Linked DNA regions of Homo sapiens: region 2 is linked to region 1. The links come from fine-mapping of genetic effects on gene expression. Tissue or cell type: whole blood. Region 1 holds a variant in brackets; the other region holds the start of a gene. All regions are shown on one strand. Distances are between the middles of the regions. Region 1 overlaps TMEM43 (transmembrane protein 43). Region 2 holds the start of XPC (XPC complex subunit, DNA damage recognition and repair factor).

Evidence for each region. PIP is the estimated chance that this variant, and not a neighbour inherited with it, causes the effect.
Region 2: it holds the start of XPC, and the variant in region 1 is fine-mapped to the expression of XPC in whole blood (TOPMed, PIP above 0.99).

Annotation. Positions count from the first base shown.
Region 1 is chr3:14,139,876-14,142,785 of GRCh38, forward strand. It overlaps TMEM43 (transmembrane protein 43), which reads left to right. Exons shown (of 12, transcript NM_024334.3): 12 at 1,718-2,910. The coding sequence ends at 1,920. Among named protein-coding and RNA genes, the nearest start is that of XPC-AS1, 8.2 kb to the right of the region's middle. The variant A/T (reference allele first, on the strand shown) is at 1,368.
Region 2 is chr3:14,177,011-14,179,920 of GRCh38, forward strand. XPC (XPC complex subunit, DNA damage recognition and repair factor) reads right to left here and starts at 1,591. Exons shown (of 16, transcript NM_004628.5): 1 at 1,456-1,591. The coding sequence starts at 1,558. LSM3 (LSM3 homolog, U6 small nuclear RNA and mRNA degradation associated) reads left to right here and starts at 1,807. Exons shown (of 4, transcript NM_014463.3): 1 at 1,807-1,871. The coding sequence starts at 1,851. RefSeq lists a silencer at 1,231-1,350 and enhancers at 1,401-1,750, 1,851-1,900.

The DNA.
Region 1 (2,910 bases):
TAGGAGACCTGTGGCCCAGCGTGGTTCGGGATCTGAGTGCCCAGGGTGACTAAGTGCGTTCTGGGCCCAGGAGGATGGGGTTCCTCGGAGGACTCTCCATCCAAGCCTTTCCCTGGTGTGTGTCCCTTCCAGTCACATGATTGCATCAGTCTTCTCTGGGTGCCAACAGAAACCTCTTCCCCACTCAGCATGCACAAGTCAGAAGAGGTCTGGCTGCACATCTTGGGCTGTCTGAGCTGGGGGGACCACCTCCTTTGTTTACAGTTGGGAAAACAGGCCCGGGAAGGGAAGGACTCTCCCTGAGCCTTTCTTTGGACAGCTGAATTGTGCTCAGAAAGACCAGTGACGTGGTGGGCACATTAGCGAGAGATGAGCATTTAAACGGAATCCTCTTTCTTGCCTGTGTGACCCTGGGGAGACCAGTTCCCTTCTGGAGCCTTGGTTTCCTCGTGTCTGTCTCAGTGGGCCCTTCTTTGGATCTCTGATGTCTGTGATCCCAATTCACTCTACGTCTGGAATGCGCCAGACTCAGGACAGACTTAGAGTGTGGAGGGACCCCCAGGGTGGGTGGGGAGAGTTGGGAGCGCAGCAGGGAAGCACACAGTTCCCCATGCGTTTGATAAATACCAACGTGTGTAAGACTCCACAGCTAGAGACAGACAAGACTTAGAGCAACAGCTCAGAGCCCAGGCTCTGGGCCCATACGGTCTTGAGTTCAAATCCTGGTTCTGGCACTTTCTAACAGGAGGACTGGTGGTGAGTTTCTTAATTCCCTGAGTCTCAGTGACCCTGTGGGTAAAATGGAGTTAAGAAGAGTACCTACCTTACAGGGTGGGCATGAGTGCTTCATGAGATGGTGCACATGGTGCCTAACACAGGCAACGTTCAGAAACATGAACTTTGCTTATTATAAGGGCTGAGTAGCAGTGCTGTATGGGAACAGATCAGGATGAGGCCAGGTAGTGGCTTGCAGGGTGTGCTGCAGGCATGGTGGGGCACCAGGGCTTGCTCTGCAAACCCAGTGATTCCAGACCATTGGTGGCCTCCTGGGAACTGAGCGAAGATTCCCTGAGTGGACATCAGCTATGGAATGCCAACCTGGAGAGGTCACACAAGGCAAGAATAGGGTAATTCCTCATGAATTTAGCTGGATTCTGGGCTTTATCCTATTGGACCAATAGTCTGTGAGATTCTTGAGGAGAGGCCAATGCTTAGGCTAATTTATTTCCTCTAGCACCTGCTGGTTCAGTGCTGGGCACATAAATCATTAGTAACAGCCTGCTGCATGAATGAACCAACACCTCTAGGAATGGCTGAGAGGCCCAAATAGGCACCTTCAGGAGGCTCCACCCACAGCCTCTTGTATG[A/T]GTGTGCAGGACCCAGGTTATTTCTAGCATTACAGGCAAATGTCTTTATACTGGCCTCAGACTACTCTCCACATAAAGTATTAAAGTTTACAAAGCACTGCTACATCCTCTCCCCTGGATCAGGGTAGAGTGGGTGGCTTAGGCAATGTGCCCAACCACGCAGCTCATAGCAGAGGCTCCTGTGCTCCCTTAGCTTTCAGAACGAAGCTCCTTGCCTTCCACCCACTGATCCTCTCCCCTCCTCATGCATGTAGCAACATGGGCCCATCCTCATCTAGGGACAGGAGAGATCTGCTGAGCTGGTGAGGTGTAGAGCAGGTGGCACCTCATCACCTTTCTCCTTTCCACAGTGGACTGGTTTCCTGTTTTCCGAGACCTGGTCAACATTGGCCTGAAAGCCTTTGCCTTCTGTGTGGCCACCTCGCTGACCCTGCTGACCGTGGCGGCTGGCTGGCTCTTCTACCGACCCCTGTGGGCCCTCCTCATTGCCGGCCTGGCCCTTGTGCCCATCCTTGTTGCTCGGACACGGGTGCCAGCCAAAAAGTTGGAGTGAAAAGACCCTGGCACCCGCCCGACACCTGCGTGAGCCCTAGGATCCAGGTCCTCTCTCACCTCTGACCCAGCTCCATGCCAGAGCAGGAGCCCCGGTCAATTTTGGACTCTGCACTCCCTCTCCTCTTCAGGGGCCAGACTTGGCAGCATGTGCACCAGGTTGGTGTTCACCAGCTCATGTCTTCCCCACATCTCTTCTTGCCAGTAAGCAGCTTTGGTGGGCAGCAGCAGCTCATGAATGGCAAGCTGACAGCTTCTCCTGCTGTTTCCTTCCTCTCTTGGACTGAGTGGGTACGGCCAGCCACTCAGCCCATTGGCAGCTGACAACGCAGACACGCTCTACGGAGGCCTGCTGATAAAGGGCTCAGCCTTGCCGTGTGCTGCTTCTCATCACTGCACACAAGTGCCATGCTTTGCCACCACCACCAAGCACATCTGTGATCCTGAAGGGCGGCCGTTAGTCATTACTGCTGAGTCCTGGGTCACCAGCAGACACACTGGGCATGGACCCCTCAAAGCAGGCACACCCAAAACACAAGTCTGTGGCTAGAACCTGATGTGGTGTTTAAAAGAGAAGAAACACTGAAGATGTCCTGAGGAGAAAAGCTGGACATATACTGGGCTTCACACTTATCTTATGGCTTGGCAGAATCTTTGTAGTGTGTGGGATCTCTGAAGGCCCTATTTAAGTTTTTCTTCGTTACTTTGCTGCTTCATGTGTACTTTCCTACCCCAAGAGGAAGTTTTCTGAAATAAGATTTAAAAACAAAACAAAAAAAACACTTAATATTTCAGACTGTTACAGGAAACACCCTTTAGTCTGTCAGTTGAATTCAGAGCACTGAAAGGTGTTAAATTGGGGTATGTGGTTTGATTGATAAAAAGTTACCTCTCAGTATTTTGTGTCACTGAGAAGCTTTACAATGGATGCTTTTGAAACAAGTATCAGCAAAAGGATTTGTTTTCACTCTGGGAGGAGAGGGTGGAGAAA
Region 2 (2,910 bases), 37 kb after region 1:
AATCACTTGAACCTAGGAGGCGGAGGTCACGCCACTGCACTCCAGCCTCAGCGACAGAGTGAGACACTGTCTCGAAAAAAATAAAAAATAAATAAAATATTTATTTAGCATTTAGCCCTACCAATCCACGGGCCCTGCATCCACAGATTCAACCAACCACAGATGAATATATTTCGGGAAAAAAAATACAAATTTAAAAAATACAGCATGACAACTATTTCCATAGTATCCACATTGTATTAGGTATTATTAGTGATCTAGAGATGATTTAAAGTATGTCGGAGGATGTGCATAGGTTACATGGAAACACTAGGCCATTTGATATAAGGTACTTGAGCATCACAGGTTTTAGTATCCGCGGGGTATCTGGGAAGGACCACCTTAGTTTGCTCAAGGAATGTCTAACTTGAGTTTTGAAGAAATAGAAAAAATCAGCCCTGGTAAAAGCCATGGGGGGTTCACTCTAGGCAGAAGGAACATCAAAGGAAAAGACTCAAGGAATAACTTGGCATATTTGAGGAAGAGAAAGGAGGCCAATAAGGAGGGTATCTGGCAAGGAAACAAGTGGTAAGAGAAACAGGAGAGGTAGCAAGAGCCAAAACATGTAGTATCTTGTAGGCCAGGATAAAACAACTGGATTTTAAGCTAAGAGCAATGGAAAACCAAGGGGAGTTTAAAGCAGGAGCAGGGCATGATTTTTTTTTTTTTTAAGATTATTTGGGTTGCTGGATGCAGAGCTGGGAGGCCAGTAAAGAGGAAACTGCAGTCACTCAACTGAAAGGTGATGATGACTTGGACAGGGGCTGTGGTCATGGAAATGAAGAGAAGTGGACAAATTTGAAATACACTCTTGAGGCTGAACTGACTGGACTTGCTGACGGACTGGATGTGTGGACATAAGAAAAAGGTGGGCTTTGCTTTATAACAAGTATTGAGACTGGAAAAACGGAGGAAAGCATAGATTTAAAGAGGAAAACCATGAGTTCTGCATTGCCCATGACAAATGTAAGAAGCCTATCAAATATCCATGAGGGGAAGTCAGGTGGGATCCCACTGTGGAACTCTGGGTGAGACTCAGCTGAAGTTATCATTCGGGAGTCAGCACACTGCATCACTCTACGTCCTGGTCCGTCCGTCTGTCTTCCTGGGACACAAATAACTGCCTTCTCCGAGTTCAACCCTGAACATCTGTATCCTCTGGACAACGGGGAGCGGGAAAAAAGCTACGCAGGAGCTTGGATCGGGCGAAGCTCGCGGGAAACCGCTCTGGGTGCGCAGGACAAAGACGCGGGGACAGCGGGGAGGGCCGGCCGCAGCCTGCCGGGCTGCCCCCACGGCGCGGAACGCGCGCAGCAACCTCCACCAGGCCTCCGCGTCTGGACTCCCGCCCTGCCTCTGGGCCTCCTCCGCCCACCGGCGGCGTCTCCCGCGAAGCCCGCTGGGCCTCGCTCTCACCCTCCTCCTCCTCCTCACGCCGGGCCTTGCTCTTGGCCTTGGATTTCTGGCTGCGCAGTTCGCGTCCCCGCGGCTCCCCGCCGGCCGCGCGTTTCCGAGCCATGTTGCTTGTCTGGGCAAATTCCACTTCGCGAGTGACGCACCCGGCCGCGATGCGCTAGAACGCCGGCCCCGCCCCGAGGCGGTGCGCTTGGCCACGCCCCTTCGTTGGAGGCCTAGTCACGCCCCTAAAGGAAGCTCCACCCCATACCCGTGGCCACTAAAAAACTGCGGGAAGCAGGAAAGAGCACAACAGGTTTCTCTCTATTTCCGGTGTATTGTATCCTCACGTTTCCGGAGATTGACGTTGCTCTTGTGTTCTCGCGAGAGGCGGGAAAGGGCGCAGGGTTTGAAACATGGCGGACGACGTAGACCAGGTAAGTGTATTTTAAGGAGGTCGCTCGAAGGAGCTTCTTGTACTAGGCTGCTTTTTCCAGACTCAGGAAAAATGGCCAGTCGTGCCTCCTCTCTCCAAGTCACCATGGCCTAATCCACCCTGTCCTTTCCGTAACCCCCCCTCCGAATTTTGCCGTAGGCCCTGAGACCTTTTCCTGTTAGAAGCCCACCTGATGACTATTCTCACACTCTTCGCTTCATTTTTTTAAATCTGTAGATTATTATCCTTAGCTACCTCATGGAGCTGTCAGGATTCCAATAGAAAGCCAGGTAATAAAGTTAGGAGTTGTTATCATTAGTGAGCGCAACAATTATTTATTCATTCAGCAGATAGAGTGAACATCAGCTTTGTATGGTTAGGCACTGTTCTAAGGGCCAGGGACACTGACATCGACATATAAGAGATCCTTGCCATTACTTGGAGCTTATATTTGCGAGGAGAACAGATAAAAGTAAATATAAATATGTAAGACTTCCAGGAACTGTGATGTGCTGTGAAGGAAACAAGGAACTGGTATGCAGAATAACAGATGGTCCTAGAAGCTTTTTCACCTGGTCTTTTTCTTCCTCAAATATCTTTGGAGATCATGCCACAACTTAAACTTTCTACTGAAATCTGACCTCCTCAGAGAGGACTTCTGCCCAAATAGCACTCCCGCTACTCTGGTTACCCTGCCTCATTTTTCTTCATAGAGAGTTATTTTTTCATATTAAATGTATGCATCTTTGTTTAATGTGAATCTCTCCCCACTAGAATGTAAATGCCATAAGAGCAGGGATTTTGTTTTGTTCATTCTTTTGTCTTTGGGGTTTAGAACAGTGCTGGAAACACTCAAAAAATATTTGAGTGAATGAGTTAGATGATCAGAGGAAGCCTCTTTGAGAAGCCAATATTTAAAGCTACAGGATGAAAAGAGCAGACAGTGGGCATCCCAGACAGAGGCTTAGGTAGCAGTAGGGCTTTTTCATGTGCATATTCTTACAGTATTATAATTATTTGTATGCCTCTCCACAGTAGAA